4 linked regions of the Homo sapiens genome follow. The protein of the gene in region 3 purifies or fractionates together with the protein of the main gene of each other region. This does not show direct contact. Each region holds a gene or a part of one and is shown on either strand. Other genes may lie near its edges. The genes, in order: CD63, RMND1, RETREG3 and ATP9A.

The links.
Region 1: the proteins of RETREG3 (region 3) and CD63 purify together in Homo sapiens (affinity purification with mass spectrometry; 4 studies listed by BioGRID and IntAct, with this or other methods). This does not show direct contact.
Region 2: the proteins of RETREG3 (region 3) and RMND1 purify together in Homo sapiens (affinity purification with mass spectrometry; 4 studies listed by BioGRID and IntAct, with this or other methods). This does not show direct contact.
Region 4: the proteins of RETREG3 (region 3) and ATP9A purify together in Homo sapiens (affinity purification with mass spectrometry; 4 studies listed by BioGRID and IntAct, with this or other methods). This does not show direct contact.

The regions. Positions count from the first base shown.
Region 1 is NC_000012.12:55,726,006-55,732,918, forward strand, and holds the start of CD63 (CD63 antigen), read right to left. Parts: upstream 3,005-6,913; 5' UTR 2,948-3,004; exon of another isoform or gene 2,791-2,947; intron 2,702-2,790; exon of another isoform or gene 2,511-2,701; intron 2,350-2,510; exon of another isoform or gene 2,348-2,349; 5' UTR 2,337-2,347; coding exon 2,271-2,336; intron 1,896-2,270; exon of another isoform or gene 1,859-1,895; intron 1,835-1,858; exon of another isoform or gene 1,607-1,834; intron 1,335-1,606; coding exon 1,146-1,334; intron 960-1,145; coding exon 885-959; intron 791-884; coding exon 695-790; intron 257-694; coding exon 116-256; intron 1-115. UniProt on the Homo sapiens protein: Functions as a cell surface receptor for TIMP1 and plays a role in the activation of cellular signaling cascades. Plays a role in the activation of ITGB1 and integrin signaling, leading to the activation of AKT, FAK/PTK2 and MAP kinases.
Region 2 is NC_000006.12:151,442,108-151,449,133, forward strand, and holds part of RMND1 (required for meiotic nuclear division protein 1 homolog), read right to left. Parts: intron 3,719-7,026; 5' UTR 3,705-3,718; coding exon 3,201-3,704; intron 1-3,200. UniProt on the Homo sapiens protein: Required for mitochondrial translation, possibly by coordinating the assembly or maintenance of the mitochondrial ribosome.
Region 3 is NC_000017.11:42,579,006-42,585,391, forward strand, and holds the end of RETREG3 (reticulophagy regulator 3), read right to left. Parts: intron 6,258-6,386; coding exon 6,120-6,257; intron 4,576-6,119; coding exon 4,493-4,575; intron 3,802-4,492; coding exon 3,669-3,801; intron 3,266-3,668; coding exon 2,808-3,265; 3' UTR 510-2,807; downstream 1-509. UniProt on the Homo sapiens protein: Endoplasmic reticulum (ER)-anchored autophagy regulator which exists in an inactive state under basal conditions but is activated following cellular stress.
Region 4 is NC_000020.11:51,758,365-51,765,390, reverse strand, and holds part of ATP9A (probable phospholipid-transporting ATPase IIA), read left to right. Parts: intron 1-7,026. UniProt on the Homo sapiens protein: Plays a role in regulating membrane trafficking of cargo proteins, namely endosome to plasma membrane recycling, probably acting through RAB5 and RAB11 activation. Also involved in endosome to trans-Golgi network retrograde transport.

The sequences.
Region 1 (6,913 bases), on a different chromosome or scaffold from region 3:
TTAGCATTTCCAGATCCCCTCCCCATCCCTGACCCTGTCCACCTCCATCCTGGGTCTCTTGCATTCTAAAACATTTCCCAGGTTTCCCAAGTCCCATACACAGTCTCCTCCCTACCTCCTTATGGATCGCCTTCTCGTTGAAATTAATCCCACAGCCCACAGTAACATTAATGCAGCAGGAGTCGGGGACTCGGTTCTTCGACATGGAAGGGATTTTCTCCCAATCTGTGTAGTTAGCAGCCCCACAGCACTTAAACTGGGGGAGGGAAGAAATATGGAGAAGAAGGTTGTTAAGTGAACCTTCACCTTCAATATGGAGATGAGAATTCTTTTTTTTTTTTTTTTTTTTTTTTTGAGACAGAGACTTGCTCTGTTGCCCAGACAAGTGCCCAGCGGTGGCTCAATCTCGGCTCACTGCAACCTCCGCCTCCCGGGTTCAAGCGATTCTCCTGCCTCACCCTCCTGAGTAGGTGGGATTACAGGCACTCACCACCACACCTGGCTAATTTTTGTATTTTTAGTAGAGACAGGGTTTCACCACGTTGGCCAGGCTAGTCTTGAACTTCTGACCTCAGGTGATCTGCCCACCTCGGCCTTCAAAAGTGCTGAGATTACAGGCGTGAGTCACCACACCCAGCCTTGGAGATGAGAATTCTCTATTCCCACCACCCCTGCTCCCAGCAACCCCACTCACATCTGCCTGCATCCTGTCCAGGATCGAAGCAGTGTGGTTGTTTTTCGGGTAATTCTCCATCTGCTGCCGGAAGTTGTTATTAAACTCTGACATCACCTGAGAGTACGGAGGAGCACTGTTGCAGTCAGAATTCAAGCACCAGGGTCCCAGACCCGGCTGAGGCAGGCCCTTCCCATTATTCCCTGCTTACCTTATCTCTAAACACATAGCCAGCAATGGCTGCGGCCACCTCCACCAACATGATAAGAGACAGAAAGATGGCAAACTGCAGGAGCAAAGGACAGAAGTCAAGTTTGGAGTCTATGCATTACAGGGGCCCGTTTTGGCACAGCCGGTCCCTGGACACTCACAAAGGTCTTCCTCACCCACCCACCTCACCCACCTTCCTGAGCCCGAACCAAGCTGCTCTGGCAGTCCCAGACCGCCCATGTTGGTCCCGCCCCCAACTCACCGTGATCATAAGACAATAGTTCTCCTTGCAGGCCCCGCAGCAGCCCACAAAAGCCACCAGGAAGAGGAAGACACCCACTGCGATGATGACCACTGGCAACAGAGAGCCAGGGGTAGCCCCCTGGATTATGGTCTGACTCAGGACAAGCTGTGCCCCGACACCCACGGCAATCAGTCCCACTGCACAGGCCTAAGAGAAAATCAGGTGAGGATTAGGCCATATCCACAACACAGTGGCCCTCCATGGTGGAGGGCAGGGGGTACACCTAGGACACAGACTTGACCCCATCCGGAAGAGAGATTCTCACACCTCTAGGGAATTTCTTTGGCTGTGGGGTAGGGGGATGACCCATCCTTGCCTGCCCCTACCTCCCCTGATCCCCTCCCGGCTCTTTAATCAGGGACATGACCAAATTCAAAAACCTCCCAGAAAGCCTTGACCTCAAGACACGTATTTCTGACCTAGAATAATGCTTTCTACAGGCCTCCAGGGCTCCCAGCTCAATTCTCTCCCAGAACTGCCCCCTCACTATCCTCCAGTGCACATCCCACGCGCGCATCAGCTGTGACTAAGGTTCCTCTGGCCAGTTAGGCCAGGAGAAGGGAAGAGGAAAAGGGAGCAAGAGTGATGTGTCCCTCCCTAGACAAACAGTAGCCTCTCAAGCCAGGAGCCCAGGGCAGGAGCAAATTGAAGTGGGCAGAGCCCTTCCTCACCCCCAAGCGCTGGGAGGAGGGAAAGGGGGAGAGGGGCTGGACAGGGATGAGAGGGTTGGGGAGGGAGAGAGGGGAGAAGGGAGAGCGAAGGGAAGCCCCATGGCGATAGCATCAGGCGGTTGGCTGGTTGCCCCACTGCCCCATATCACAAGTGGTTGGGTCACCAGACAGGAAGGGCCAGGAGGGATGGGGGTAGGGGTTGCTGCACACCCAGGATGGCCATTCTCGGTGGAAACAAGCCTCAGGTGTCCAGGAAAACTGGAGGAGGGAGTGGCTGCGCTGTCTTTCCCTGGCTTTCTTTCCACATCTGGTCTCCAGCTGCCTTAATTCTCATTCCCTCAGCCCTCACCACTGTGGAGCCAGGTCTCCCCGCACCCTGCCGGCGCGCCCCCCAGGACCCCTCGCCACTCACGCAAAAGGCCAGCAGGAGGACGTAGAGCAAGAACTTCACACATTTCATTCCTCCTTCCACCGCCATGGCTGCCGGGCCTGGGGCAGAGGGGAGGGCGGGGGGATTAAAACTGGCCGAAGGGGGACCTCGGTTTCCGGGCTCCCGGCCGGCCCTCGAGGGCTTCCCTTCACGGCCCCGATTCCCGGCCCCTCCCACCCGGAAACCCGCGGTCGGATCCACGTCTCCCAGCCCCCTCTTTACCCGCAGGAGAGGGGTGGGGGCGACGGCCGCGAAGCCCGGACCCCGCCCCGCCGCCTCTGGGGCCCAGGACAGATCCAAGGGCGCCGGCAGGGGCTTGAGCCTGACGCCGACCCTCGGCCCGCCAGTCTCCGGGCGTCAAACACCCTTTCCCCACCCAACACCCAGCCTGGAGAAACGGTCTTCAGCCCAACCCCGACCCCCGCCCCAGCCCCTTTCCCCTGGGCTCTGACCTCCCCGCCCACCAAAAAAAAAAAAAGTGCAGCCAGCACCCCCGCCACACCCTGCCCGGGCCCAGGGAACTTCGAAGCAAAGTTGCTCCAGGGCGGCTGGAGAGCGCCGGACGAGTCTCCGCGGGCCTGGGGCGAGCCCTGGAGGAAGGGACTGCGGGTGGTCTCTCCCAGCCCGCGCCGAAGTCCGCCGGGTCCCCGCGGCCTCACCTGGGCTTCCCAAGGCTGGCTGCGCGTTCCTCTCCCGCCGCGGCTCCGGGGCTCTCTAGCTGCGCCCCCCGGCTCCCGCCCCGCCTGCCGCGCGGCCCCGCCCCGGGCTCCAGCCACGGTCCCCTCCCCCGCCGAGTGGCCGCCGGCCTCCCTCATGTGACGCGGTAACAGCTGCGGCCTGAGTCACTGGGCCCGGCGCGGGGTGGGCCGAGCCCCCCGCCCGGCCAGGGCCACGTGGCCCCTACCCGGAAGAAGGCGCCCACCCCCGCAAAGGGAAAGCCGCAAGGGCAAGACCTCGGGGCGCCTGGGGCCCCCCTCTGGCGCTATACCTCCGTGCCAACTCGGGGTAGGAGAGCGGGGCGGAGCGCAGCCTGGGTCACTCTGGTTCAGAGAAGCGGACGAGGTGGGTGAGAGTTACCCTCTGAGCGCCGGGGCGGAGAGCTGAGGCCGGGTGACAATGTGGTCTGTGAGGTTTCCCCATCCTACCGTAGGGGATGAGCCAGCTCTCTCCTCTGGCTCCAACTCTGTGCAAGCCCCCTCCCCATCCGACTGTGCAGACAGCTGGGGACTGCCTGGGGTCGGGTGGGGCCAGAACAAACACTTCCAGAAAGTCCCTGGCTCACATCCTGGGTGTCTCCCAACATTCTACAGCATTCTAGAGTGGGGATTTCTGGCCCCCCTCTATTAGCACAGCTTCTCCATTTTCCAGGGATCCTAGTCTGAGAAAAGGGGAGGAAGCCCTTCCCCGAAGCCACGCTACCCAGTCAATCAAGACACGTCCGCGTCGGGTCCCGCCCTCTGGGGGAGGATTGACAAGGTCTGTGCTTCCAGCCTCCCAGACAGCTCCTGCATCCGTCTGTGATAGCGAGGGCTTGGGGGAAGACACGAAGGCAGGAGAGGCTTACATCCTCTGGATTTCCCCGTCTTATCCCAGAAGACAAAGCCAGGTGAGGGCTGGAAGCGGGCTAGGGGGATCAAGCTGCCTCCCTCCCTTGTGTGCCAGGGGTGGTCCCCAGAAGGAGCTGATCTGAACAGGCCGGAGAGTAGGACCGGCCGTCACACCCCCACACCTCCAGCCTCGGCCCCACTCCTTGGGCTCTTAAGGTCCTGCCTCAAGAACCACTTCCTGAGTCTTAGTGTATGTGTGTACACAAAGAATGAAAGAAGTCTCTAGAGCTAAAGGAAGGAGATCCGGGCTGGGCTGAGAAGCATCTTCCAGGATCACGGCCTTCCCGCGGGACACACCAAGCCCATTCCGGATCTTGCTCTTCCTGACCATGGCTGGCAGGCTGTGGAGGAGGAGCGGAGAGCAGAAGAAAGGAGTATTCATCAGGTTCCTTATTGTGCTGCCACTAGATGCCAGGCATGTGCTAGGCTTGGGGGCTGCAAGGAGAGGAAGACAGCGGCCCTGCCCTCTGCTAGCAGGCAGAACCGAGTTCTGGCCACACTGTGAAGAAAGGCAGAAGCCTGCGGTGGCAGCTGGTTAAGCTCAGAGGGAGGGAAAGGGAGAGGAGAATGGATTTCACGGAGCAGAAGGATGTGCTCAAGGTGACCTTGGAGAATAAAGGGGAGAGCTCCAGGGACAGAGAAGCAGTCGACTGTGGAAAAAAAAGGAGCATTTTGTAAAGTACATGGCAGGTTGGGGTTGGCTGGCTCAAAGGGCTTGGGACGGATGTGGTGAGATGGGCTGAAGGTGGTCTGAAGATCAAGATTGAGAGACTAGATACATAACAACCAACTGCAATGTTTGGTCCTTCATTGAATGGTTGAACAAACCAGCTGTGAAAGACATTTTGGGACATACAGACATGGACTGAGAATTAGACATAAGAAAATTATTTTGTTAACTGTTATCATGGTTAACAAAACGGTCATATAATATGATTATGTAGAGAAGTTACTCTAGTTTTTCCTCTTTTTTTTTCTTTATTCTCCTATCAGCCAATGCATTTGTTACAGGAAAGGGGTCCCAATCCAGACCACAAGAGAGGGTTCTTGGATCTCATGCAAGAAAGATTCAGGGCGAGTCGCAGTGCAAAGTATAAGCAAGTTTATTAAGAAAGTAAAGTGGTGAAACAACAGCTGCTCCATAGACAGAGTAGGATGTTCCCCAAAGTAAGAGGAGGGGCTAGGCGCAGTGGCTCACCACACCTGTAATCCCAGCATTTTGGGAGGCCTAGGCAGGTGGATCACCTGAGGTCAGGAGTTCGAGACCAGCCTGGCCAACACGGTGAAACCCCGTCTCTACTAAAAATACAAAAAGTAGCTGGGCACAATGATGTGTGCCTGTAGTCCCAGCTACTCAGGAGGCTGAGGCAGGAGAATCACTTGAACCCAGGAGGCAGAGGTTGCAGTGAGCAGAGATCGTGTTGCTGCATGCCATCCTGGGCAACAAGAGTGAAACTCCGTCTCTCTTTTTTTTTTTTTTTTTTTTGAGACGGAGTCTCGCTCTGTCACCAGGGTGGAGTGCAGTGGTGCCATCTTGGCTCACTGCAACCTCCGCCTCCCGTGTTCAAGTGATTCTCCTGCCTCAGCCTCCCAAGTAGCTGGGACTACAGGCACGCACCACTACGCCCAGCTAATTTTTGTGTTTTTAGTAGAGATGGGGTTTCACCATATTGGCCAGGATGGTCTCCATCTATTGACCTCGTGATCCGCCCCCTCAGCCTTCCAAAGTGCTGGGATTACAGGCGTGAGCCACTGTGCCCGGCAAAACTCTGTCTCAAAAAAAAAAAGTAAGAGGAGGAACACATTCACCCTCGGTATAATGCTTGTATATATGGAGAGATGTGCTCTGCTACAAAAGTTTGTGATAAAGGATTAATTTTCTTAATTACTGTATTTTGTAAGAATCGATATTATCTTTTTTATTATTATTAATTTGTTTCCTTAACCATAAACATCTAGGTTTTTTGTTTTTGTTTTTGTTTTTGAGATGGAGTTTTGCTCTTGTTGCCCAGGCTGGAGTGCAGTGGCACAACTCACCACAACCTCTGCCTCCCAGGTTCAAGAGATTCTCCTGCCTCAGCCTCCTGAGTAGCCGGGATTACAGGCATGCGCCACCATGCCTGGATAATTTTGTATTTTTAGTAGAGCCGATATTGTGCCATTGCACTCCAGCCTGGGCAACAGAGCGAGACTCTGTCTCAAAGAAAAAGAAAGAAAGATGAAAATGTTGTGGAGATGGATGGTGCTGATGGTTGCACAATGTGTATGTACTCAATGTCCCTGAATTTTATGTTATATATATTTTACTACACACATACACACAAAGAATGGCCCACTTCTACAGCCTGGAAAGTTGACACAGAGCTCCATGTGTTTGCTGGGGTGCAGGATAGAGGGGCCTCTTAGTGGGAAGTGGCTGATCTCAGACCTGGCCCTTCACATCCTTCAGATCCCCCAGCACCTGTTCCAAGTGCCTGACATCCAGATATGCCACCAAGCCGTCCTGGCTGGCCCAGGCTGCTGCCTCTTGGTTGCCTGGCACCAGTTGGTGGTAGGTGTGCTGAGGCGGGGACCCTTGTCCCTCCACACCAAGCAAAGCCAGCTTTCCCTCCAGCTTCACCACGCCTCCACCTAGGCCCAGCGACACAGCATGGGGGCCACAGATGTCTCAAGCAAACCTGCAGCCTTCTGAGAGCATGTAGGCATCAGCCAGACCCAGTGCCATGCACAGCAGCTTGTAGCCTGCATCTAAGCACAGGAAAGGGTGAGGGGATATGAGGAGGGTGAGGGGATATGAGGAAGGTGAGGAAGAAAGAAGGGATCCAGAATCAAGGGAAAAGAACAGTTGAGGAGAGTTGGGAGAGGGGTGAGGAAAAACCGGAAAGTGAGAGACATAGAGGAGGGTGGGAGGCATGGGGAAGGATGGGGGAAGAGGAGGCAAAAATACATGAAGGATCAATGCTTCTTGGGCTTCAGTTTAAAAAACATTTTCTTTAATTTTTGAAAAATAGGTGTAAG
Region 2 (7,026 bases), on a different chromosome or scaffold from region 3:
GATAGATCATACTAAGGAAAAATGCCTTTTCTCCTGTAACATACTGATTGGAGATTAAAGCTATAAAAACACAGATACATTTTACGTTACCAAGATCACGCTTTATCCTGTAAGTTTTTCTGACTACAACCTATAAATCATTAAACATAGTACATATACACATATATGCTTACACACCAATTGCCACAAAAGCTTCACAAACCAGTATTTACGTTTATCATGAGCAATGTATTCTGTTATTTTCTATTCTATTTCATTTTTCAAAAAAATGGTTAACAGTCCACCAGTGATTCTGTAACACAGTGCTATTAGCCTGAAAACATTCTCCCTGGTGTCGGGCTCCATGCCACTCAGACCTGCCGTTCCCATCCTCTGCTGTTCTCTTCAAAGACTGGACATTAACAAGAAGCACTGCTATTATTGTTTTCTTGTTTGTTTAGTGACAGGGCCTCACTCTGTCGCCCAGGCTGGACGGAGCGAGGTGCAGTCACGACTCACTGCAGCCTGGAACCCTGGAGCTCAAGCGATCCTCCCACCTCAGCCTCTTGAGTAGCTAGGACTACAGCTGCGCACCAGCAAGCCCGGCTTTTTTTTTTTTTTTTTTCCAAGTCTTTTAGAAATGGGAGTCTTGCTATGTTGCCAGGCTGGTCTTCAACTCCTGGCCTCAAGTGGTCTTTCTGTGTCAGCCTCCCAAAGCACTGAAATTATAGGCATAAGCCACTGGATCCACTATTGCTTTTAGGAATTGTAAGCCAAAGGGATGTGGGTTGAGTATCTCAGATTATGATCTCTGAAAATGAGACCAGGTAAAGATTTAATTCCAACAGACAGGGTGACTGAAACCTCATTCAGCCAACTCCAGATGCACGCTGTTCTGCAGAGCTGAAAAGATGAGCTGGGTGCAACTATGGGAACAAAATAAAGTCCACATGCTTTCTGACACAAAGCAGAGTCTTTTCCTTGTCTCAGTCAAGAATGGTATAAAGGGTTTACCATTTTGATGGTATAAAGTGGTATAAAGGGTTTACCACTATGATGGCCGTATAAAAATGGAGTGGCCCTCAATTTCGGGCAGAGGAAAGTCAGTCTTTGGTCCTGGGGACATATTACCTAGTCATGCCAAGACTGCTTTCTCTATGAAAAGTAAAATCTTCAAAAAATGATGTTCCAAAATTACATTATCTCAGACCACTTTAGAAACATGATTTTCTTCTCTTTTTTTGAGACAGAGTCTCACTCTGTCACCCAGGCTGGAGTGCAGTGGCATGATCTCAGCTCACTGCAACCTCCACCTCCCGAGTTCAAGAGATTCTCCTGCCTCAGCCTCCCGAGCCGCTGGGATTACAGGTGTGCACCACTACGCCTGGCTAATTTTTGTATATTTGTAGAGACAGGGTTTCACCATATTGGCTAGGCTGGTCTCGAACTCCTGACCTCAAGTAATCGCCTGCCTGGGCCTCCCAAAGTGTTGGGATTACAGCTGTGAGCCACCGCCCAGCCAGAAACATCTGATTTTCTATTATTTCCCTGTGCTTTCAGAAAGACAGCATGCGACTTGCTCTTGCCAAACTCCAACTGAAGTCATTGTCTATCATGTTACATAATGTCTCCTATAACAGAATCCATGAAATAACTAACTCCTTAATTTCAGTGCTGGAAAAAGTTATTTCTCTGAAGATATTTTTATGTTTTTACTCTGCCCTCTCCCACAACAATAAACAACAAACACTAAATCCCAGGAGGAGTTCCTCTTTTAATTACTGCGCTTCTCAAAACAAAATGTTCAACTAGATTATTCATTTCAGGTACTTCATAACATTTCTCTGTTCATGTCAACTATTTGCTCTAATATGTGAAAGTATTTATTATCTCATTTGAAACTATGTTGAATGTTGAAAATCTACTTCAAATTCTTTCCTGGAAGGAAGTAGAAAAAAAAATCTAAAGAAAAATAGATACGGTATTTAGGAAAATTGCTTCCAAGTCTAAGGATGGCCCAAAGAAATAGCCTAGGGACATCTCTGACCTATCAGCTTCTTCCTAAGAAACCTGATGCACTGTGCTGCTAGACGTTACAAATGAACAAAGTGAGTTGAGCTTTCTCTTTTTTGGAGCTGCCATGAATTCAGGTTTTTACACTTAATGCCATCTCGGACACTTAAATACTGAATTTCCCAGGTTACCCCAAAGCTCCAGCAAAAGGAAAGGGGAAACAGTAGCTGCACAACACTTCATCCTTCACGTCCTGAGTTCAGAGTAACCACACAAGAATTGAAAGCATTCCAGAATCCAACACAAAAACCATTCATTCATTGCTAGATTCAGAATCAGAGGATGAGTAAAGGTATGTATGTATACCTTTCCAAGGGGTGTCAGCTGCACAGTAATAAAAACACAGCCAAAATGAAACAGGCTCAGGGGCTACTTTTCAGAATCAAGACTTGAAGACAGACATTCTAACCTGTTTTCTGATAGATTCAGAAGTCTTCATCAAGTTTAAAATATCTTTAAAGTTGATGACTATCGGCATTAAAGATCCTCTTATAAACATTTAAGTACAAGGTACAGTTCTAGGTATTATGCAAGATACAAAGGTTATCAAGGGCTTGATCTTGACCCTTAAGTTGTTACTGAAGGAGAAATGCAAATTGTAGCAGAAAAATTCCCAGAAACCCCTTAAGGATGAATAAAAAATACCCCCTTAAACCTTAAGAGGATAAAAAAGCTGGGCCCTCCTCTCCTGCTGCTTTTGGAGTCCACCCTACCGTGTCATTTCACCGCCCCATGCAACTGCCACAGCCTAATAAAGGCTTATCTGTCTGCAGAGTTACAATTTTTTTTAACTTGATGAAGAATTTCTAGTTTGTTTTTTTTTATTTTATTTTTTTTTACAGTCCCATTCTTAGACTGGACTTAATATTGGTCCTCTTTTTCAGTTTCCTTAGACCAATAACCAAATCTTTTATAAACTCTATTTTCATGTGTTATCACCTGTATTTTGTTTTTATATGTATCATTAATTGTTAAAAATTAAGATTCTGAATCCCTTTGGATATTTATTAGGCTTCAAAGACCTTGATGAAGAAGTCTGAGTGACTGCTAGTTCTCTTACGTTGGCGGTAAGGCTGGGGTGCAACGCACACTGGTTTAGCATGAGCAATGATCACTAAGCACGAGAGCCACGGCCACCCCTACTTTACCTCGTTCACAGACAGAACTGGAAGGTTGGTCCTGGATGGCTGTCTGGTCCTGGATGCTTTTAGTGGTCTCTTCACCTGTGGGAAGTCTTGTTTTGGAACAAATGTTTCCGTTGATACAGATGAGAAATGCCTCTTTAATATTTTTATAAACCATTTAGAACCCAACAGATTTGGTTTGTGGGTCACTCTCCTGTGAGTACCAAAGGATTTCATGGTTGGAAGGTGTGCCTTTTCATCTTGGCAACGAGCAGCATTTAATGGAGACAGCATGCTGGTATCTGACTTTTTTTGGTTCATTTCCAGGATCTGAGACTTATTCAAACCACTAGCTGTTTTATCAGGAAGGAACAAATCCAAGCTTTGACGTATTGTCAGTGTGCTGCATGTTGTATTTTCAAATTCCTTAAGTGGTTTTAACATTAGATGACCGATTCTTCGGCACTGATGTGCTTTTGATAATATATGATGAGATCTGGCCACGGCTCTGAGGAGTGTGGCTGGCATTACCACATCCCAAGCTAAAAGAAAAGGAATTCAAAGTTCAAGTTTTTAAATTAATGTTTAAAACATATATAATATTTCCCTAGGTAGCAGGCATATTTCTGTTAGAAAAATTTGTAAAACAGATACATTCTAAGTTAATTCTAGTAAAAGAACAAGGTTAAAAATATAAGTACAGTGTTTCTGCCACTTTGCCTTTAGCAACATTTGGCCTTCTTCCTGGAAGATTACAAGATTATAAAGCTACTGACATAACAAGAACCTTAAAAAAAATAGTGATGGGACCACTTCATTTACTTCATTAGCATATCAAGTATATAAAAATCTGTGCTGGCCAGGCACTGTAGCTCACACTTGTAATCCCAGCACACTGGGAGGCTGAGGCAGGTGGATCGCTTGAGTCCAAGAGTTCCAGACCAGCTGAGGCAACATGGTGAAACCTCATCTCTACAAAAATGACAAAAATTTAAAAATTAGCTGGGTGTGATGGCAGCTCATGCCTGTAGTCCCAGCTACTCACAGGCTGAGGTGGGAGGATCACTTGAGCCCAGAAGACTGAGGCTGCAGTGAGTCATGATTGTACCACTGCATTCCAGCCCTTTTTCTGTCTCAGGAAAAAAAAAAAAAAAATCAGGAAAGGTTCCCAGAAAGATCTAAGCTGATTCTAGAAGGCGAAGGTGCTTTTCAGCTTGGGGCTGGGCATGGGAGTGCGAGGCATGTCAGATACACACATGAACATTCCAGACAAGGTAAACAGAATTTCCCCCTTATTTACAGTATGAAATGTGTTATTTTAAAGTTAGCCTATAGTAGGCCACACATGGTGGCTCACGCCTGTAATCCCAGCACTCTGGGAGGCTAAAGGCTGGGGGGATCACTTGAGGCCAGGAGTTCAAAACCAGCCTGGCCAACATGGCAAAACCCCATCTCTACTAAAAATACAAAAAAAAATTAGCCAAGCATAGTGGCTTTAATCCCAGCTACTCAGGTGGCTGAGATATAGAATCGTTCAAACCAGGGAGGGAGAGGTTGCAGTGAGCCAGGATTGCCCCACTGCACTCCAGCCTGGGCGACAGAATGAGACTCTGTCTCAAAAAAAAAAAAAAGTTAGACCGTAGTAATCAATAATTCTTTTTTTAAAAATAATATGTTAGGTGCTAGAGATAGATGAATCAATGATCTCAGAATTCAAAGTCTAGCAGAGGAAAATGAACGAGATGCACAAATTGCTCTAGTCCAGAGAAAGGAGCATGTGAAGAGTGTGGCATTGTCACAGAGGTGACATTTGAACTGAGTCTTGAAAGGGCAGAAGGATCAGCAAGTTAAACACCCCAGGCATGGAGTCCTATTCATCTCCCCATCTCGGGGAGGTAGGAGTGAGCTGCAGGAGGTAAGGACCAAAAGAGCCGATGGCCAGATCACCAAAGGATATATAAAGTCATCCTAAAAAGTTTCTACAGGTGGGGAGAAAGCTGAGCTTTTAACTCAGAGTCACACGGTCAAATGCATGTTCATGAAACAAATTTTTGGTGATGATATGTAGGAGGAAACAAGACAGACTCTGACATCACTCTGAGCGCTTTCTACATGCTAAGTGCTCGGCTTCACCTCATAATGATCCCATTTCACTGATTAGGAAACTGAGGTTTAAAGAGGCTAAGTGCTCACCGTTAAGAAGCTGCAGAGATGTAACTAAAATAAAACCCAGGCTTTCCCAATTCCAAAGTCAACACTCTTACCCACTACCTTGTATTTACTACCTCTCTTCAGGATAAGGACAAAGATGATTCACAGTGATATTTAGGAGGTAGAACCTGCTGCTTCCAAAATCCCTTCAAAAGCTCGCATTCTGTGCTTCATTCTAGTCCAATTGGCTACTGTAGTTCACCTTTAATTAGTACTATGCCATGCCAGTTGAACCACTTAATTTTGAAGAAACTATAAAATATTTTAGAAGTTTGTCTACAGTCCTGGATTCTTTTTATTCTCTTTGAGTAAATTCTTTTTTTTTTTTTTTTTTTTGAGATGGGAGTCTCGCTCTGTCACTCAGGCTGGAGTGCAGTGGTGCCACCTCAGCTCACTGCAACCTCCGCCTCCCCGGTTCAAGCGATTCTCCTGCCTCAGCCTCCCGAGTAGCTGGGATTACAGGTGTCTGCCACCATGCCTAGTTAATTTTTTTGTATTTTTAGTAGAGACGGGGTTTCATTATGTTGGCCAGGCTGGTCTTGAAATCCTGACCTCAGGTGATCCACCTGCCTTGGCCTCCTAAAGTGTTGGGATTACAGGCGTGAGCCACCGGACCCAGCCCATTTTTATCACTGCACCTTCTAGAAAGCCTAAGATTACATTTGTGCCTTACACTGTTTTTCTATCAGACAGGGCCCTATTGTCATTATCAATACATCGGACCTCCTCATCTCAGTTTCATCCATTTTACTCTCTAAGCACCACCTCCTATCTTTGCATCTCACTCCTTCTATTACCCAATTCCAATAATTCTTCAACCCCAACAGGACCCACAAGTCAATGATCCAACCACCTTTTCACTGTCTCTCACTCCCCATGACTTCACTTCCTCCATATCCAGTTTACACTCCATGGTCTACCATTCTAACCTCTCCCTTATACCCCTAGAATCCCTTGCATCCCTTTCTTCCCAGTCTTTCCCATTCATGAGCAGTAATAAGTATCTTTATAACTGCTAAGCCAAAAACGTGGGGTCCAGCTTGACTCTTTATTCTCCATATCCAACTTCTCAGTAAATCCCAAGGGCCTTCTAGGGACCACTGCTCATCATCAGTAATAATACTACCTGATCCAAACTGCTATCCTTCCCATGGATTATTATAATAGCTTCTTAACCAGTTTTCCTGATTCTGTTTTGGGCCCCCTACAGTTTCTTCTCAACACAGCAACCAAAGTGATCCTTTGAAGTTGAATCTCAACGCGAAATCTAGCTGTGGCTTCACGGTTCACTTAATAAAAGCCAAAGCCCTCCAACCAGGCATGGCGGCTCACGCCTGTAATCTCAGCACTTTGGGAGGGATCACTTGGGGTCAGGAGTTCCAGACCAGCCTGGCCAACACGGCGAAACCCCGTGTCTACTAAAAATACAAAAATCAGCCGGGCATGGTGGCATGGGCCTATAATCCCAGTTACTTGGGAGGCTGAGGCACGAGAATGGCTTGAATCTGGGAGGCGGAGATTGCGCCACTGCACTCCAGAATGAGCAACAAAGCGAGACTCTGTCTCAAAAAAAAAAAAAAAAAAAAAAAAAAAGCCTGGCGCGGTGGCTCACGCCTGTAACCCCAGCATTTTGGGAGGC
Region 3 (6,386 bases):
GGCCAGGGCGGGCGGATCACGAGGTCAGGAGATCGAGACCATCCTGGCTAACACTGTGAAACCCCATCTCTACTAAAAATACAAAAAATTAGCCAGGCGTGCTGGTGGGCGCCTGTAGTCCAAGCTACTCAGGAGGCTGAGGCAGGAGAATGGCGTGAACCCGGGAGGCGGAGCTTGCAGTGAGAGATCGCACCACTGCACTCCAGCCTGGGCGACAGACCAAGACTCCGTCTCAGGAAAAAAAAAGAAATTAGAAATGAAGGAAATACAGGCTAAATACTAGCCAAGAGTGCCAGTTATACTGATGGTGGGGCTCTCACAAGAAGGAAAGTAGCCTCATACTATGGTGATGTTCTGGCCATCACGAAGTAAAAATAGGGGTGGGCTGGTGGGTCCCTCATACCTGGGCTTCCTCTTTTAAGGCTATCACTTCAAATTAATCAGAACTCAGATTTACAAGAGAAGACCTATCAAGGGTAGGACACCATTCAGCATCAGTCTCTTAAAGATTGTTCTCATACAAGATTTATTCCCCAGCACACCCCTCCCCTCCTCAGTTCACAGTGGAGACTATGGAGATTCAGGGCAGGATCCCTCAGGTACAAGAAACACCTTCCGAAGATTTTGCTCTCCTTCCTTCCCTCCCTCTTGCCAACTCCCAAGGCCTGAAGCGCACACTCATGCAAACACACGAAATCCCCCTCCTTCCCCACACCTCCTGTCTTTCCACATCAGAGCTCTGAACTTGAGAGGTGTCAAAAGTCTGTTTGAGAAGCCTAAAGTGGGGAGATGCCATTACCCCTGACCACCCCACTATGAGTGACTATGAGACACCTAACTCTTCCCTCTTCTGTCAACCATTTTCACTCCCTGGCCTCTGTACCTTCTCCATCAACCAAGAGCAAACATGTCAGCACACCCCCACCTGCAGTACATGAAAACAGGCTCTGTCCAACATCCCTCACCCAAGTACAGGGGTGTTGGGGGAGTGGCCCCTGAGGATCAGCAAAGGGTTAATGCAGAAGGAAAGAGGACAGAAGCGTTTGGCTTGAGCTCTGCTTGGGGAGGCAGAGGCTATAGACTGGCACAGGTTTAGAATCAAGTACCATGTTTAGGTTTCTGTCTCACATCACATGATTTCACTAGGGGCTGCAGAACAGATACCCCTCAGAGGGGTCTCTGCTGATTACAGCCACATTCTTACTATTGGCTCATCCTTAAAGGAGGCCCCACCAAGTTGGGAAGCAGTTGAAAATAAAAGCTGTAAAGGAGCTGAACAGGAAGTAAGAATAGGTGGTGCAAGAGATTATGGCCCCTGGGATGAATGACATGGAGCCATTTGTAAAGTGCTACTGTATCATCCCCCATGAATTATTGCTTCTCCAAAGGAGGAGCAGAGGAAGGAACAGGAACATAGAAATGAGTATGGTATTGCTTTGCTCACTGCTGAGGCTGATGGCCAGATGGACCCAGGGGTTATCAGAAACCGAAGATTAACTACACAGCTCCAGAAGACTCAGACCTCAAAATACAGAGGTGCTCACTAATCCTCCCAGCCAGCTGATCCCCCTGGGCCAAGGTAATGTAGAAGAGGCCCATCCCCACATCATATTCACATTTTTTAAATTTCACAAGCAATACTTTGGACCACTGGGGTTCAGGCCCCAAGAAATGATGGGCTAGATGAGAGGGAGCAGGCCTGTTCTGCAAAACCAAAGGACAAGTTTGCTTTAAAAAAAAAAAAAAATCACGCTGGGCACAGTGGCTCACACCTGTAATCCCAACACTTTGGGTGGCTGAGGCGGGCTGATCATTTGCAGTCAGGAGTTCTAGACCAGCCTGGCCAGCACGGTGAAACCCCATCTCTACTAAAAACACAAAAAAATTAGCCGGGCATGGTGGTGCATGCCTGTAATCTCAGCTACTGAGGAGGCTGAGGTAGGAGAATCGCTTGACCCGGCAGGCGGAGGCTGCAGTGAGCCGAGATTGTGCCACTGCACTCCAGCCTGGGCAACAGAGAGAGACTCTGTCTCAAAAAAAAAAAAAAGAAAAGAAAAGAAAAGAAAAAAATCAAATCCTGGTTTAACAAAAGATGACGACTAATCCCAGCACTCTGGGAGGCCAAGGCAGTCAGCTCACTTGAGGTCAGGAGTTTGAGACCAGCCTGGCCAACATGGTGAAACCCCATTTCTACTAAAAATACCAAAAGAAAAATTAGCCGGGCATAGTAGCGGGCACCTGTAATCCCACTACTAAGGAGGCTGAGGCAGGAGAACCTCTTCAACCTGGAAGGCAGACGTTGCAGAAAGCCAAGATCACACCACTGCACTCCAGCCTGGGCAACAGAGCGAAACTGTCTCAAAAAAAAAGATGATGACAATGTAACTACTCCAGCTGCTGCCTGACTTTGGGGGCTCTAGAGAGGCGATGAAAGGAGGAAGGCAGGCATGGGCTCTTTCAGTGAGGGCCCCTGAGCACTCATACCTAAAAGCAAACAGCAGCACCTCCTCAAAGGGGAACCAATATCCCTGACTATTTTGTTCCCCCAAAGTACCATCCTGATGGAGAGAAGCCTCCCTTGGGGGAGCACACTCTCACTTCAGTGACTGAGCTCAGAAATGGGCATCCAGCTGGTGGGAGGGGAGTGAGTGTCCTCTCTAAGGAGGCCTCTGAGCATCAGCCAGGCCACCCAGCATACAAATATAATTCAGGGGAGGGGAGCTGAGTTCTTCCCTTGCCCCATCACCTTAAGTGGGATGGGGAGAAAAAAACCTAAACCACAGTGACTCCCAAAAGGAGTCTCTGCCTCAGTGGCTCCTAGAACTGGCAGGGTCCAGCTGACTCAGCTCCGACTGGTCCAGAAGTTCAAAGTCATCCCCCTCAGCATCAGTGTCCAGGTCTGAACTGGGGGACCGGAGGAAGCCTCTCGTTGCTCTCTGGGCAGGTGCTCCAGAAGGGCCTGGTTGGGAGGCCCCTGACAAGGCCAGCTGAATCATACCCTGGGAGACCAGGCTGGCAAGGTTGCTGGTGAGGTTGGATCCTACAGGAAGAGCACCAAGCAGGAGCTCCGGCAGCGCAGCCTCGTCCCGGCTGGCAGGTGGGGCCTGGGGCTCCTCAGCCCCTGGCGGAGAACGGTACATCAAGCTGGGCATGCCAATGCTAGTGTCGTCCTCATCATCCAGGCCAGCAGGATCCATATTAATGGAAGGGAAGTCTGGAAGGTCTCTGGCAAAGGATTCCTCTGGATCACTGTGACCATCTAGGTCTGGTGGAATACAGAAGTGTCTGAGTCATGGCACCTACCTGGCCCTCCTGTGCCCCAGCCCCACATGACCAGATTTTTCCCACCCTGGCTTTCTCAGGGCGAAATAAACCCATGGGACTGGTATACCTTTCCCCTCCACTTATAGGTGGCTGTGATCTCTACACAATTCCCCCTCTCTTCTATGTCCCCTGTGAGGCTAGTGCCTGAGGCTACTAAGGGACTAAAGTCTTCAAGAAGGGCAGCAGTGCCATCCTGGCTGTAGCCACAGCACTCAGGCTGCTCTGCCGCCTGATCCATAGCTCAGAAAACAGGAGAGGGGCAAGCACCAGTATCCCCTCTGTTCAGGGAAGCTAAGAGGCAACAGTCAGAGCCATTATCAACTGAGGTCAAAGGCTCCCCTCACCTTCAGAGCCTTCCGTTAGAGGTGTTTGGCCCCTTGAAAGATTGAATGTGCCATTGTCTGTACAGGAGACTTCAGCGTCTGAGTGCTCAGAGTCTGTGATGGCCAATTCCCTGGCAACAGTAGAATCGTCCAGCTTAGGAAAAGACCAACAAATGTGAGATAATGCCATCAGGAACCAGGTGTAGTCACCAGGTACAGCTTTACTAATCAGCTAGCATTAGTTATCCGAAGGCCATCAAATCAATGTAACCAGGGATAGATGGTAACTTCCCGTTGAAAACTCCCTCTCCCCTTTATTTTTTTTTTAATCAATACATGTGAAAGTAACAACAACAAAAAAAATCTTGACCCCTTTTAGGCTGCTCTCCCAAAGAAAACACTCATTCATAACCTCTTAAGCACAGGAAGAAAAGCAGTCTTGGGGGAGTCAATTACCCACTTACTTTAAGGCAAATAATTGATCCAGAGATAATTTTTCAAAGTGGTAGGAGGATACACATACTGCACAGACCCAAGGGTGAACTGGGCTGTTTAAAAGATGATCATACTAGCTCCAGAAGTTCTTCCATAATGGTAGGGTAAAAAGAGATACGGAAGAGCGGTGCTGGGCATCAGGCTCTAATTGAGACCTAGGTTGATTACAGGAATGATATGATAAAGAAAAAAATTGAGATCTAGGAACAAAGTCTCACTTCTCTCCTTGTCTTGGGAACAAGGGGAGTCTAAGGCCTCAAACCTGGTTATGGCCTAAATGTGAGCTGTCGGATGGTTAAAAGGTAGCTAAAGAAAACTGGACAGTGAAGCAGCTCCCACACTCAAGATACCTGAGGACAGAAGGCAGCAAGCTCCTCTTCGCTGTCACTGTGGTTGTCCATGGCTCGTTCTGGGTGGAGAGCTCTGCGGCGTACTGTGGGAAGAGCACAAAGTCTTGCTTGATACCTTCTCCCAGCGTAAAATCCCCTTTGGACTTTAAAGACATAAAATCAGAACACAAAACAAAGAGCCTCTCTGAATCTGGCTCTAAGCCTACATAATAATAACAGAAGGCTGAGCTGCTGAGCCTAAATGCAAGGTGAGTTGAAAACACTGGAGAAAATATCTCAGCTTCCAACATCCTCTCCACCAGACCCTACATATTTCTTTTTTCTTTTGAGATGGAGTTTTGTTCTTGTTGCCCAGGCTGGAGTGCAATGGCGCGATCTCGGCTCACTGCAACCTCTGCCTCTTGGATTCAAGCAATACTCCTGTCTCAGCCTCCTGAGTAGCTGAGATTACAGGTGCTCACCATCACACCTGGCTAATATTTGTATTTTTAGTAGAGACGGGGTTTCATCATATTGGTCAAGCTGGTCTCGAACTCCTGACCTAAGGTGATCCGCCCACCTCAGCCTCCAAAAGTGCTGGGATTACAAGTGTGAGCCACTGCGCCCGGCCTGGCACACATTTCTATTCTGGTCAGATGATCAAATACCAGGCTTTGTCAACAACTCTCTGGATGGCTAAAGGCAGACCTAATGTCAAGGTGTTAAGTGGACATGATCAAAGAGAGGGCAAAAGGAGATGCACACCTTGTTAAATCAGACTTTTGAGGACTGGTATTATTCAACTGGCTGCCCCAAGGGGACTTGGGCCTTGGTGACCAAGTGCAGGGCTCTTTGAAGGCCAGGCCTCCATAAAACACAAAACCTGACAAGACCACACAAGGGAGGGAAAAGTTTGTACTACCATCATTGTGTTGCATGGATCTCAGGCTAGTACACTTACAACCTCTGAGGCAGCAGTTTTTAATCACCTTTGGGAGGCAGCTTTTACTAGTGAAGAGACCAGGCTTAGGAGTTGAAAGGATCTGCTCTGGGCTCAGCACGGTGGCTCACACCTGTAATCCCAACACTTTGGAACGCCAAGGCAGGAGGATCGCTTGAGCCCAGGAGTTCAGGATCAGCCTGGGCAACATGAGACCCCATCTCTACAAAAAAATTTAAAAATCAGATAGATGTGGTGACACATGCCTGTAGTCCCAGCTACTGAAGGGTTTGGCGGGGCTGAGTAGAAGGATCACTTGAGCCTGGGAGGTCAAGGGTGCAGTGAGCCATGATCATGCCACTGCACTCCAGCCTGGGAAACAGAATGAGACCCTGTCTCAAAAAAAAAAAAAAAAAAAAAACAAACCACAAATACTAGGAATTTATCTTCACTGTCTAGCTTTTATTCAACTTGAAAGAGCTTTTATCAGATAGGTTTAAAACGGGAGCCTAGGATTACAAATGATAAAAACTGGCAAGCCTGCACAGGTTTCCCTAGAACAGAATATCATTTTTACCTATCAATCCTCACCCCCACCAACTACCCCCGACTTCCACTTTTGAGGACCCACCCAGTATGTCAGACCTATGGGCTTCTCCTTTTCGCCCCAAATTGCGTAAGTGGAAAGAATGACACCATGACACTTACATTGTCTCTCTCTCTGCTTGGACATCATGTAGCCACGGACACTGAAGTCTAGCCGCTGCAGAGCTGGCTTCAGCCGCACATATGCTCGATCCCACAGTCGGTGGTACACAGCAAGGGGCCACATCATGACAGTGACAACTGTGAGGAGGCATGGGAAACAGTGACAAAATGGAGAAGGGGCTGCAAAAAACATTCCCAACTGTAGCGCTGCTATTGGTCCTTAGGGCTTGGACACAAAGTGTGGAACAGATCTGCCCAAGTCTGCCA
Region 4 (7,026 bases), on a different chromosome or scaffold from region 3:
GAGCCACTGTGTCTGGCCAATCTATTTCTTAAACAGTGACATGGATTTGGATTCAAATTGTGTATCAGGGTTGCTGTGCATTTGCGTAAATGCTCTTGTATATAATCTGCATTTTCAGGAGTAGCAACATCAAGGTGGAATCCTGAAGTTTAGAAACTCTTGAGAAGCACAGAGAGATGGAGGAGCTTCCTGAAATAGAACTAGGGGCTGGGGGATGGCAGCGTGAGGGCTAAAGTGGGTGGGTGGTTAAAGGAAGAAAAAAGTAATATGTAATGGGTCAGGCTGTCTGCTGGACACTTGAGATAAATAGGGCTGTTTTAATCCTTACAACAACCATGTGAGTTTTTGGAGTTAATTCTCCCATTTTAGGGGCCAGATGTGGTGGTTCAAGCCTGTAATCCCAGCACTTTGGGAGGCCAAGGTGGGCGGATCACTCGAGGTCAGGAGTTCGAGACCAGCCTGGCCAACATGGTGAAACCCTGTCTCTACTAAAAATACAAAAATTAGCCGGGTGTGGTGGTGGTGCCTGTAATTCCAGCTACTGGGGAGGCTGAGGCAGGAGAATTGCTTGAACCCAGGATGTGGAGGTTGCGGTGAGTCAGGATTGTACCACTGCACTCCAGCCTGGGTGAAGAAGCAAGACTCCATCTCAAAAAAAAAAATTCTCCCATTTTATTGACAGGGAAACAAAGATTCACTGATATTAATGTGTTCGTGGTCTTGGAGGTTGTGAGAGGAGGCAGTTTTGAACCGGATCCACCCATTTCACCTAATGGTTCTAGGCAATAAAGCTGTGGAATGGTTGGAAGATTTGTGGTTAAAAAAACCAAAAACGATGCCACATGTCATAGGGGACAGAATGCAGTTATTTCTGGGGTCACTCAGCGAATGTTGCGAAGACGTGCAGCTTATTTTTGGAGGAATCTCCTGGCTTCAAAGTTCTTTTCTCTCTTGAGAAAGTTACCACATCCTGATGTTGAGAAAACTTTTGAAATGGTGTAGTTAGGAAACAAGGCATTTCACCTCCATTGCTGGAAACCATTTTATGACATCATGCCCTTTGCTTATGGCTGAATGGAGCTCCTCTTGTGGTGAAATGGCAGGGATTATTTGTTAGGAGCCAGGACGCAGGAGTCCATTGAGGAGCTGGGTTCACACCCAGGCTCTGCTGCTTACTAGCTGTGTGATCTTGGGAAAATAACTTTACCTCTCTGAGTCTCAGTTGTTTCATCTGTAAAATGGGAATATCAATAATTATGTATCTCATAGTTTTTTAGTCCATGTAAAGTTTAGGAGAATAAGTGCTCAGTATGCCTTAGGTGTTTACTAGGGCTAATGGTAATCCTTAGGTGTTTGCATGAGGTTTACCGTTGGGGTCTACAGTGTGCTTCTTTGAGAGGAGGGGCCTTTTATGAGAAATTTAGAAATATGAATTTCACTGCTTTTTCCTGATCAAATTTAGGAAAATGAATAACTATGTAGAGCATTCTGTCCAGGTATGTCGAGGCCCTGGTGTGATGTTGTGGCAAGGATGGGAGCTTAGGTACCAGGTGGCCCAAGACTTTGCCTCATTGTAACAATCTACGTTTTGTGGGTGGCCACACTGGATGAGGATGCTTTGATGCTTGATATATTTGGATTTGGGGGACTAGGAAGTTTTGAATATGAATCAGATTGAGAAAGAAGAACTGAATAGATATGTTGTCTACCACAATGTTTTAAACAGCTTTATTGAAGTATAATTTATATAGCATACATCTATTGAAAGTATGTAAACTGGCCAGGTGCGGTGGCTCATTCCTGTAATCCCAGCACTTTGGGAGGCCAAGGTGGGCGGATCAGGAGGTCAGGAGATCCAGACCATCCTGGCTAACACAAGTGAAACCCCATCTCTACTAAAAATACAAAAAATTAGCTGGGTGTGGTGGCGGGCACTTGTAGTCCCAGCTACTCAGGAGGCTGAGGCAGGAGAATGGCGTGAACCCAGGAGGCAGAGCTGGCAGTGAGCCGAGATCGCGCCACTGCACTGTAGCCTGGGCGACACAGCGAGACTCCATCTCAAAAAAAAAAAAAAAAGTATGTAAACCATTGATTAAAAAAAAACCAGGTGTATGGAGTTATGCAACCATCACTCCGGCATGGGTTTTGAATGTTTCCATCACCTCCGAAAGTCTCCTCCAGCCCATCTGCAATTCATCCCTGCCCTTGCCCCAGTCCCAGGCAACCAGTGATCCGCTTTCTGATTCCATAGGTTTGCCCTTTCTGGAAATTGTCTATCAATGGAATCACACCACGTGTTGCCTTTTGTGTCTGGCTGCTTTAATTTAGCATGAAGTTTTTGAAGTTTCTTTTTATTGTGTAATAGAATTTCAGTTGGGCTTGGTGGCTCACACCTGTAATCCCAGCACTTTGGGAGGCCCAGGCAGGAGGATTGCTTGAGCCCTGGAGTTCAAGAGCAGCCTGGGCAACATAGTGAAACCCTGTCTCTACAAAAAATAAATAATAATAATAAAAAAAGCCAGGCATGGTGGCTTGAGCCTGTGGTCCTTGCTACTTGGGAGGCTGAGGTAGGAGGAGTGCTTGAGCCCAGGAAGCGTAGGTGGCGGTAAACCCTGATCATACCGCTGCACTCCAGCCTCGGCAACAGAGTGAGACCCTGTCTCAAAAAAAAAAAAAAAAAAAAAAGCCATTTGTGGATATATCACCTTAAATCTTTTTGTTTGTTTGTTTTTAGACAGGGTCTCGCTCTTGTCACCCAGGCTGGAGTGCAGTGGCATGATCTCTACTCACTGCAACCTCCACCTCCCGGGTTCAAGCGATTCTCATGCATCGGCCTCCTGCGTAGCTGGGATTACAGGCTCCCGCCGCCACGCCCAGCTAATTTTTTTTTTTTTTTTGAGACAGAGTCTTGCTCTGTCACTAGGCTGGAGTGCAGTGGTGTGATCTTGGCTCACTGCAACCTCTGCCTCCCGGTTCAAGCAGTTCTCCTGCCCCAGCCTCCGGAGTAGCTGGGACTACAGGCGCATGCCACCACGCCCAGCTAATTGTATTTTTAGTAGAGATGGGGTTTCACCGTGTTGACCGAGATGGTCTCGATCTCTTGACCTCATGATCCGCTCACCTTGGCCTCCCTAAGTGCTGGGATTACAGGCGTGAGCCACCATGCCTGGCCTAATTTTTGTATTTTTGGTAGAGACGGGGCTTCACCGTATTGGCCAAGCTGGCCTTGAACTCCTGACCTCAAGTTATCTGCCCACCTTGGCCTCCCAAAATGCTGAGATTACAGGTGTGAGCCACTGACCCTGGCCCGGCCCAGTGTTATCACAGGGTCCTTAAAAGCGAAAGACAGGCAGGAGAGTGAGTGTCAGCATAAGAGAAAGATTGGGAGAGGCTGCACTGCTGGCTTGAAGAGGGAAGAAGGGGCCATGAGCCAAGGAATGCGGGGGACTCTAGAAGTTGGAAGAGTTAAGGAAACGGACTCGGTTGGAGCCTCCAGAAGGAACACGGCTCTGCTGACACCTTCCTTGATTTTAGTCCCATGAGGCCCATTTTGGACTTCGGACCTAACTGTAGGGTAATAAACTTGCATTGTTTTAAGCCACTCAAGTTGTGCTAATTTTTTTTTTTTTTTGAGGCGGAGTCTCGCTCTGTCGCCCAGGCTGGAGTGCAGTGGCGCAACCTTGGCTCACTGCAAGCTCCGCCTTCCGGGTTCGCGCCATTCTCCTGTCTCAGCCTCCCGAGTAGCTGGGACTACAGGCGCCTGTCACCACGCTCGGCTAATTTTTTGTATTTTATTAGAGACGGGGTTTCACCGTGTTAGCCAGGATGGTCTGGATCTCCTGACCTCGTGATCTGCCCGCCTTGGCCTCCCAAAGTGCTGGGATTACAGCCGTGAGCCACGGCGCCCGGCCAAAGTTGTGCTAATTTGTTACAACAATGAGGAGAAGCTGTCACACACCGATGTGTGCTGCAGACCCTGGGAACGGATTGTCGTGCTCCTCTTTCCATCCCACAAAGGGGACTGGAATCTAGACAGGAAGCCCGCCACCTGGGTGGAGGCATCAGAGGCATTTCAGAGGTCCTACATTTTGCCTGAGAGCATAGAGCTTATGTCAGCATGTTTATGTGACTCATTATCTGACGGTGGAGGAAAAAGATGAATATTTATTTAGGACCTGCAGTGTTTTGGCTCTGAACTCATGTTTCCTCTTTCATGCTGCACAATGGCCCTTTGATGTTGGTAATTTTTTTTATTCTTGCTTTACTGATAAGGAAACAAAAATGCCCTTTCTCTTTGATGTGATGGAGGTGGTGTTAGGTAGGACTCTCATTACTCTCAGGACTTACATTCTTGTTTTTTATTTTGAGACGGAGTCTCACTCTCACTCAGGCTGGAGTGCAGTGGCGCAGTCTCGGCTCACTGCAACCTCTGCCTCCTGGGTTTAAGCAATTCTCTGCTTCAGCCTCCCAAGTAGCTGGGACTACTACAGGCCTGCGCCACCACCACGCCCAGCTAATTTTTGTATTTTTAGTAGAGACAGGGTTTCACCATGTTGACCAGGATGGTCTTGATCTCTTGACTTTGTGATCCGCCTGCCTCGGCCTCCCAAAGTGTTGCGATTACAGGCGTGAGCCACTGCACCTGGCATTTTTTTTTTTTTTTTTGAGACGGAGTCTTGCTCTGTCGCCCAGGCTGGAGTGCAGTGGCGTGATCTTGGCTCACTGCAACCTCCACCTCCCAGTTCAAGTGATTCTCCTGCCTCAGCCTCCCAAGTAGCTGGGATTACACATGCCTACCAGTATGCCCGGCTAATTTTTGTAGTTTTAGTAGAGACGGGGTTTCGCCATGTTGGCCAGGCTAGTCTCGAACTCCTGACCTCAGGTGATCCGCCTGCCTTGGCCTCCCAAAGTGCTGGGATTACAGATGTGAGCCACCGTGCCCTGCCCAGTACTTACATTCTTTATTTCAGTCGTTGTGAGCACTGAATTTTCGAATATGGAACCATTGCTCTTAGGGGAAATATGGGGTTAGGTTCCTGAGAGGCTCTGGTCACATTATTTTTGTTGACTGATCAATGAAGAACCTCGTTTTAGGTGTGTTTCTGTTTTTTAAAAACCGCATATTTAATGTACGTTATGGATTCATTAACATCGAACTCACAGGCAACAACTCTGTAACTCACGCCTGGAGGCAGCTTATCTGACACGTGTATTTTTTCCACGTGGCACATCCCAGCCTTCCTGTGCTTAGAGATACTAGTTCTTCTGCACTGTGCTGAGGGGCCATTTTAAACTGCAAAACCATCAGGGAAAAGCACAAAAATGCACAAATCGTGGCAGTAAGAGACCACAAAAATGACTCCTATTTGTAGTGTGAGAGCTGCAATGAGAAGCCTTGTGTCACCTCAGCTGGGAATGTGTGTGTCTGGGGGCGGGGCAGGGAGGAGCAACTCACCATTTTGGCTACACTGCACGCATCCATTAGTGACTGTGAAGGGGCTGCAGCTGTTGATTTGGGATTACAAGTTTGAGGGATTTGGTGAATTTGCAAATACAGAAATTATAAATTATGAGGATCAATTGTATATAGTGGGGTGGGTGTGTGTTTCAATGTCCTTCCTTTGACAAAGTGGAGATAGTATTAGATATGTGGCATGTAGGGGTGTGTGTACATCTTATTTTATTTTTTAATTTTATTTATTATTATTATTATTTTTGTGACAGAATCTTGCTCTTGTCGCCCAGGATGGAGTGTAGTGGTGCGATCTCGGCTCACTGCAACCTCTGCCTCTGAGGTTCAAGCGATTCTCTTGCCTCAGCCTCCTGAGTACATGGGATTACAGGCACCCGCCACCACGCCTAGCTAATTTTTGTGGTTTTAGTAGAGACAGAGTTTTGCCCTGTTGGCCATGCTGGTTTCGAACTCCTGACCTCAGGTGATCCACCCACCTCGGCCTCCCAAAGTGCTGGGATCACAGGCATGAGCCACCGCACCCGGCCGTGTGTGTACATTTTAACATCCTTTCTTTGATGTGGTGGAGGGAGTATTAGATACCAAGCATATAGGGGTATGTTTTGAGGGAGGGGATTGTGCTGGTGGGTGAAACCCAGAGACACCCCCCTCCTCAGCCACCGACCTTCCCCTCTCTGGGCTGGAGGAGAGAGTTGCACCAACAGCTCTTTGCCCCCCTGGGATGAGAACAGTGGAGCTTGGCAGCGGCCCATGGGGCTGTGCTCTCTGTCCTCTGCCAGCGCCCAGCTGCACTTGCGCCATCCCCTTCAGTTACAGAGGTCCTCCCTTGCTCTGCCTTGTGCTGACCAAAACCAGACTAGCTGCTCTCTGCCCACGTGGAGACCAGAAGATGTGTTGTTGCAAACCCACAGAGGGACTCTGAAGGATGGAGTGTGGACATGGGTGCCGTGCCTGCCGGGCTTCCTTGCAGACGGGCTCTTTCTTTTCTTTTTTGAGACAGAGTCTCCTTCTGTTGCCCAGGCTGGAGTGCAGTGGTATGATCTCGGCTCACTGGAACCTCCGCCTCCCGAGTTCAAGCGATTCTCCTTCCTCAGCCTCCTGAGTAGCTGGGATTACAGGTGCAGGCCACCATGGCTGGCTAATTTTTGTATTTTTAGTAGAGACGGGGTTTCACCATGTTCTGCAGGCTGGTCTCGAACTCTTGACCTCATGATCCGCCCGCCTTGGCCTTCCAAAGTGCTGGGATTACAAGCATAAGCCACTGCGCCCAGCCCAAAAGGGCTCTTTCTACCTACTGTACAGCTGGCTGGCGAGAGGAGGTCCCTGTAGTCCAGTCCGCAAGGAGATGGGGGCACCCTTTGACCTTGACCTCTGTCTTGCATGCAATAAGTTGGAAAAAGGAGGCAAGGCATGGAACCGGCCATCTTTGGACTTTTGTCCCTTACTTCTCAGAACAGAATGTTCTTTTAGTGTCTTTACCCAGATGGAAATGTTGAAAGTCAGTGATAAGGGCTGGCTGTATTTTATGACTGCCTTTGAAGGGGTGGAGGGGT